2 linked regions of the Homo sapiens genome follow. The protein of the gene in region 1 purifies or fractionates together with the protein of each later gene. This does not show direct contact. Each region holds a gene or a part of one and is shown on either strand. Other genes may lie near its edges.

Region 1 (3,944 bases):
CCTTCAGATACCTGGGCAGGGCAGCACTGTGTCTTCTATGTAGCTTGTATGTAGTTGCTAAGTATTTAATCATTCCCACAGATGATAGCTAATTGGCGTCTTTTAAATAACTTCTTCCCTTGGAATAATGTAAGTGGAATCATGAGAGGCTTGCCAGCTCAGTATGATTTTTGTATAGCTTGTTTAAACCTCATTTATAAAAGCTGACAAATGTAAAACTGGGATTTATTTTCATCTTTGTAATCAAACAGTAAGTTGAAGCTAACTTCAATAGTTAAACTGTCTTAATGAATTTGGAAATGAACTAGCTCTGCACCAAATACTTTGATGTTAAGTATTGTACAATTTCAGGAAGCATTGTCCTTGGAATTGTGGGACATGGCCTGACTGTAAGCTCTCAGAGAACCACAGATTTCCCAGGATAGGTTTAGAAAAGCTTATATTAGCATGGAATTATTTAGCAAAGGTTGAAAAATTTCCTGTAACATACAGGATGAGCATCCCACATCTGGAAACCTGAAATGCTTTAAAACAGAAAACTTTTTGAATACTGATATGATGCTCAAAGGAAATACTCATTGGTGCATTTTGGATTTCAGCCTCTTCAGATTTGGGATGCTTGACCGCTAAATACAATGCAAATATTTGAAAACCTGGAATCAACCGACACACTTCTGGTCCCAAGCATTTTGGATAAGGAATACTCAACCTGTATATGAATTGGGAAAGCAGTGTTTGGGTTTAGCAATGTAGCTAATCCCCTTTGTAATAAGTCTATGGAGAGAGAGGTTATGTAGAAAGGTTATGTTCATATTTTGAGAACATCTCCCATTTGTTAGGAAGGGAGAGGAGAGTTTGCTAGGAAAAAAGGGACCTATTTTATTTGGAGACAACCGTTTTCACCTTTTTGGTGGCTTAAAATCCTAACCTTTTTTGGAAGAGTCTTAACTGAAGCTTATTTTTTTAAGAGACAGTAAATCTGCAGAAATCACTTGGCAATAAGCTATTTTTTTTCTTTTTTTGAGATGGAGTTTTGCTCGTTGCCCAGGCTGTCAGTGGCACGATCTTTACTCACTGCAACCTTCGCTTCCAGGTTCAAGCGATTCTCCTGCCCCAGCCTCCCGAGTAGCTGGGATTACAGGCGCGCACCACCACGCCCGGCTAATTTTTGTTTCTTTAGTAGAGACGGGGTTTCACCATGTTGGCCAGGCTGGTCTCAGACTCTTGACCTCAGGAGATCCACCCGCCTCGGCCTCCCAAAGTGCTGGGATTACAGGCATGAGCCACTGTGCCTGGCCATACTTAACTTTTTGTTTTCTGTTTACATTTGGTATTTATTACAATTTCTCATACCAAGATCTATGAATATTAAATATAAATTTATATGCTGAAAAACAGTAAAAGAGAAGAAAGAGAAGATTGATAGAGAAATCGAGTGTACTAGGAATCTGCTGATTTTATTTGAAGGCATACATTTTGAGGTTCAGACTCCTACAGAGGGATCTTTGTTTTAAAGTGGTGCTTTGAAATTTATTTAGTGAACAATTTTTTTTTAAAGGTCTTGTTGCAGTAGGAGAAAGAGCACAAAAGAGGTCTGGGAACTTCTCTGCTGCAATGAAAGATCTGTCAGGTGAGAGCACGTTTTTGAATTTCCTCTTACCCTAATCCCACCTTGAATTCATTATTTGTTGCAGAAGTTGGTGGAAATAATTTAAAACTGGGTATTTCTCCCCCCTGCAGGCAAACATCCTGTGTCTGCTTTGATGGAGATCTGTAATAAAAGAAGGTGGCAACCACCTGAATTTCTATTGGTCCATGATAGTGGCCCTGATCATCGCAAACATTTTCTCTTTAGGGTAAATATGAATTTCTGCATTAATTATATATATTTATTAATGTGATGACTTAGAGGGTGAGGGGTAAACATGATCACAGGATTAAGATTCTGTTCATGGGTGGGGGGTTTGTATTTGTAGTTAAGTGGTGGGGTTTTTAAACACTGAAGGGTGCTTTAATACGACTTGTCAATGTCCTATTTTTTAAAAAATTGGAAAAGGGTAAAATATAGTATACAATTGTTATTTTCTAGTTGAATGTGGGGAATTAATTTAATACTTTTGTCAGTCTTTTTCTCAATTTGGAGACCTGCTCTAATTTGCAGTCCCTTTCCCAAATGATTTGGTTCTTCGGGTTGAGATTATAATTTGACTTACATAGTATGGGTTTTATATTTTTGTAAATTATTTTTCTAGCATTTAGTGAAAAAATACAAAGCTAATAGATATTAAAGTTTGATGCTGTTCTTATTGTATGTTTTTCTTGAATAGGTATTGAGAAATGGAGCCCTTACCAGACCCAATTGTATGTTTTTCTTGAATAGGTATTGATAAATGGAAGCGCTTACCAGCCCAGCTTTGCCAGCCCTAATAAGAAGCATGCTAAAGCCACAGCAGCTACTGTGGTTCTTCAAGCAATGGGCCTTGTACCAAAGGACCTCATGGCTAATGCCACTTGCTTCAGGAGTGCCTCACGTAGATAGATTGAGGTTTTATAATAATCATTTCAGAATTTTACTCTGCATCACAATGTATTTCCTCTTTAATGTTGTAAATATTTGGCAATTTAAGACATTGTGTAAAAAGCAATCTGTAAAAACATCTCCAGGCTTTGATTTTTGTACCATGGAAATTGTATTTAACCATACAGGGTTTTGGTATGTTTATATTGTTTACCTTAGTGATGTATTTGTTTAAGTGGCTAACATCCAAACGACTGTTTGAAGGCATCAGAGTAATCTTCAGTGTGGAATGTTAAATAACGCTTTTATACTGTATTTTGTACTATGATGTAACTCCCCTTCCTTATGGCTAGGCTACTGTAACACTTGCCTGTAATCAGTGAAGGGCTGTGCACCTTGTACTATTTCACAATGGGTTCTGCTGGACAGATAATGGGCCAGTGTTATTGAGGTGATCAAGATCTGTTCCACAGGGCTAATGCCACCATCTCCCCTCAAAATTTTGTAGAGGTTCTAAAAAGAAAGTGGTATGTTGTGTGATGATCAGCACTAAGTCCTGCATTCCTGTTAAAGCCACTTGGGTCATAAGAAGGGAGTAAAAAATGAAGTCTGACTAGAATTCTATTGCAGAGGCCAGTACATTTAGTATGGCATTGAGTTGTGATATAGTTTTACTTTGATGTGCATTTTGAATTTCAGCTACACCTAGATAGACGTAAAATGATAATTAAAATGCTGTAACCAACTTATCTAATAAAATTGGCAACCAGCCACTATTTTGTTGACTATGAGAAAGTTAAAAGTTTATGTTAATTTTTAGGGTCTGATAGAATATTTCATGTGTATTACAGTGGTATTCATATGCTATGTCTCTAAACTTTATTTTCAAAAGCTTAAGGCCCAAATACAAACTTCTCTGGAATAAACGTGGTGTTTTATTTTCTGGGTTATAAAGTGAACAAATACTTAGATACTATTATTTCTTTACCCAATGCTTTTGATTTTTAAGCACTTTTATTTTAAAAATGTGAATTATACAGTCCCCCCCTACACACACACACACACACACACACACACACACACACACACACACACACACACACACACACACACACACACACACACACACACACACACACACACACACCCCTATAAGCACATTAAATACTACTTTGCCGTGACAGCTCAGTGTACTTCACAATTCTTAACACTATTCTATGTGGAATACAAAATGCCTTTTTATCTGAATTAACATGCATTTAAAAAGTTTTAGTATATGTGAAAATAAAGGAATTATAAATCAGTAGGAAAGATATTAAGGTAGAAGCATCACCAATCAACTAGCTCAGTAGATGTTGTCTGTATTTATTTTCTACCTTTATGAAACAAGAACCTGCTAACAGGTAAATCGTAAAGTAACATATTT
Region 2 (3,500 bases), on another chromosome or scaffold:
TGCGCTGGACTGGAGAGAAGAGCATGTACAAGGGAATGGGTGGAGAGTGGGGAGTGAAGAAGGGGCTGTCTTCCTGGTTCAGTGTATCTAATGGCCAGAGAATTAGGTAGGACGAGGAGGGATTTGGGGCTGGATGGGTAAGTTGGGGCTAGCCGGATGCAGGGCAGGGGAGGATGTCTGTGCAGTTTTTTTTTTTTGTTTTGAGTCAGAGTCTCGCTCTGTCACCCAGGCTGGAGTGCAGTGGCGTGATCTCAGCTCACTGCAACCTCCGCCTCCTGGGTTCAAGCGATTCTCCTGCCTCAGCCTCCCGAGTAGCTAGGACTACAGGCGCGTGCCACCATGCCCGGCTAATTTTTGTATTTTTAGTAGAGGCTGGGTTTCACCATGTTGGCCAGGATGGTCTCGATCTCTTGACCTCATGATCTGCCCACCTCGGCCTCCCAAAGTGCTGGGATTACAGGCGTGAGGCACCGTGCCCGGCCACCTGTGCAGTTTTGACCTCAGCTAGTAGGAGTTTTTTTGGTGTGTTTGTTTTTATTTTTATTTTTATTTTTATTTATTTATTTTATTTTAGAGACAGTCTCTCCCTATGTTGGCCAGGCTAGTCTTGAACCCCTGGATTCAAGGGATCCTCCTGCCTCAGCCTCCCACAGTGCTAGGATTATAGGCATGAGGCACCAAACCCAGCCTCAGCTAGGAGATTTGAAGCAGGAGAATAACAAGGATGAGATCCTGTGTGCTAGAAGGATGATCCTGGCAGCACTTTTTAGGAAATATGCCACATCTCACCAAATCTAAGATGCTATTTGTCTTAATCCATTTTCTGTTGCTGTAACAGAATACCACAGACTGGGTAAATTGTAAACAACAGATGTTTATTCAGCTCACGGTTCTGGCCAATGGACTCTTGCAAGAAAGGCATTAATCCATTCATGAGAGTTACACCCTCATGACCCAGTCACGTCTTAAAGACCCCACCTCTTAATACCGTTACATTGGCAATTACGTTTCCAACACGTGAACTTTTGGGGGACATGTTCAAACCACAGCACCACCAAATCTTTTATGTGCCCTTATTTTATGCTCCACATCAAAAAAATATTTTGCCAGTTAAATTATGACATGCAATTGATCACATTTCAGAGATGCTAAAATGTGATGTCACAGGTGTCTCAAATTTGATGAAAAGCACTAACTCCCTTGCTGATGGCTTAGATTCCTCCCTTTCCCTGGATTAATGGTTAGGATGTCTCCATCTCACTAACTCATAGATGGTAAGTTACCAAGGGAAAGAAGAACAGAAGCTGGGTGGGCCCTTCCCCTTCTCTCCCCAAAGATAAACATTTACAACATTTACTGGTTGGGTCGAGGAGCACAATATCTGGTCTGCTGCTATAGGATTCCTTGGCCTGTTATTGGGCCTGTCTCATGCTGTTTCCTTTTGGGGAGTTAAATACACACACACACACACACACACACACACACACACACACACACACACATATTCTATATCCCATCCTCCAGAGTGGCAAAAATTAAAGCTGATATTATCAGGTGTTGGTGAGGCTGTGGGGCATCATGAGTGCTCATAGCCTGCTGAGCAGACTACATAGCACTATAGTCACTTTGGAAACAGTTTGGCCTGCTTAGTCAAATTGAGGGTACATCTTGCCTGTGTGTGCTAGAACATGTATGCAGAAATATTCACTGAAGCAGTGTTTGTAATTGTCCCAAACTGGAAACAACTCATATGGCTATCAGTAGACTGCATTAAAAATTGTATAGTTAGAGAGCAGCAATTAAGTAAAATCAGCTCATAATCACATGGATGAGCCTCACAAACATGTTGACAGCCCCCCACCCAAATACATGGAAAAAAAAAAAAAAAAAAGGAAAAAAATTCCATTCATTTGAGGCTCAAAACCTGAGAAAATAAACTCTGTTTATGGGGTGTATACCTAGGTCTAAAACTAAAGAAAAGGGAAGGAGTGATTCTCACTATTACAATTTACTCCACAACAACCATTTTCTCAGACACAGCTTTTTCTTCTCCTGGTTTCTGTAAGTTGCTGGAGCGAAACCTTGGATACGATGATTTGCTGGTGACGTGCAGCCCACTGTTCTTGCTGCTACAGGGAATATGAAGAAATTGCTTCTCTCTCTACCAATTTACTACCATCTTGCTGGAGAGAAAGGGCAGGTGGCTAAGATTGTTCGCATTCCTTCAGCAGATGTGTAGGAAGCATCTTCTTTGTGTCAGATACTCTGTGCTTGTGCTTTGTTTTCTCAGTCAGTTTTTATTGTCTACTCTGTGCCAAGTAATATGTAGATTCTGGTGATAAGACAGACACAATCTCTCTCCTTGTTTCATGGAAAAAGCTGGTGTTAAGCGAGTAATTACACTAATAAGTCAGGACTTAAAACTGCAGAGAAGTACAGGGTGCAGCATGGGGTGTTTTGGGGCTGTATAACTAGACTACATGTGGACCCAATCTGACAGGTCAGGAAAGAATTGCCAGAGGAGGTGGCTTTCAGCTGAGACTTCAAGCTAGAAAAGGCATTTGCTAAGTGGGAAAGGGATGGTGTTCTAGGCAGAAGGAATTACATTGTCGAAGGGCTTAGCCAGGAAAGAGCATAGCACTTTGAGGCATGGAGAGCGGTTTGGTTTGGCTGTGAGTTTGAGGTGGGGAGTGGCAGGAAATGAGCCTGGAGACACAGGCTGGGCCATGATTATCTGGGAATCCAGCTAGGATCTCCTGGGACAGCCTCCTCACAGAAGAAAGGAAGGACAGGAGTTTTGACTTTATTCCTGGAGCACCAGAAAGCCATTGAGGGGTTTAACCTGGTTGGTCACCCGGGCAGATTGGCAGTTTAACACGTGACCGAGTGTGTTTGAGGATCAAAAGGCCAGAGTGGCTGCAGCACTGGGGCAGCAAAGGGGAGAGGAGGTTTATGTAAATCAGGAAACCCTTGAGGGTTTGATGATCCCACAGTTGGATCTGATTTCAGCTTCTAAAGGATTCCTCAGGTCACTGGATGTAAGTTCTGGTAGGACAGGGAGTTTGCCACTTTTGTTCTCTGCTGTAACCTCGGTGCCTGACACATAGTCGGCACCTAATAAACATCTGCTAGCTGTTGAATAACTTTCAACATCCTGCTGCTTAAACCCTCAATGGCTTCCCAGGGCTGTTAGGATAAAGTCCAAAATTCTTAACCTGGGTCACAGTCTTGCATAATCTGTTCCCTCCTGTTTCTCCACCCTTCCTCTGCTCGCCTCACTGCACTCCACCTGTGGCCAATTGTCAGCTCCTCAAATTCACCGCTACCCTTTCTCCGGCGGATGATTTCCTCTGCCTGTGAGGCTAACCCTCCACAGCACTCCATATGGGCAGGGAAGAGTTCATTTTCCAGGCACCAAAGTGCAGTGTATGGTGGAATGGAAGGAGCCCAGAGCTGGGAGGTGCACCTCACCCCACCTCGTGCTAGTGCTGGCCTTGCTG

The links.
Region 2: the proteins of SON (region 1) and TRIM26 fractionate together in Homo sapiens (co-fractionation; one large-scale study listed by BioGRID). This does not show direct contact.

Annotation. Positions count from the first base shown.
Region 1 is NC_000021.9:33,574,038-33,577,981, forward strand, and holds the end of SON (protein SON), read left to right. Parts: intron 1-1,558; coding exon 1,559-1,630; intron 1,631-1,740; coding exon 1,741-1,856; intron 1,857-2,327; coding exon 2,328-2,387; 3' UTR 2,388-3,444; downstream 3,445-3,944. UniProt on the Homo sapiens protein: RNA-binding protein that acts as a mRNA splicing cofactor by promoting efficient splicing of transcripts that possess weak splice sites.
Region 2 is NC_000006.12:30,206,907-30,210,406, reverse strand, and holds part of TRIM26 (tripartite motif-containing protein 26), read left to right. Parts: intron 1-3,500.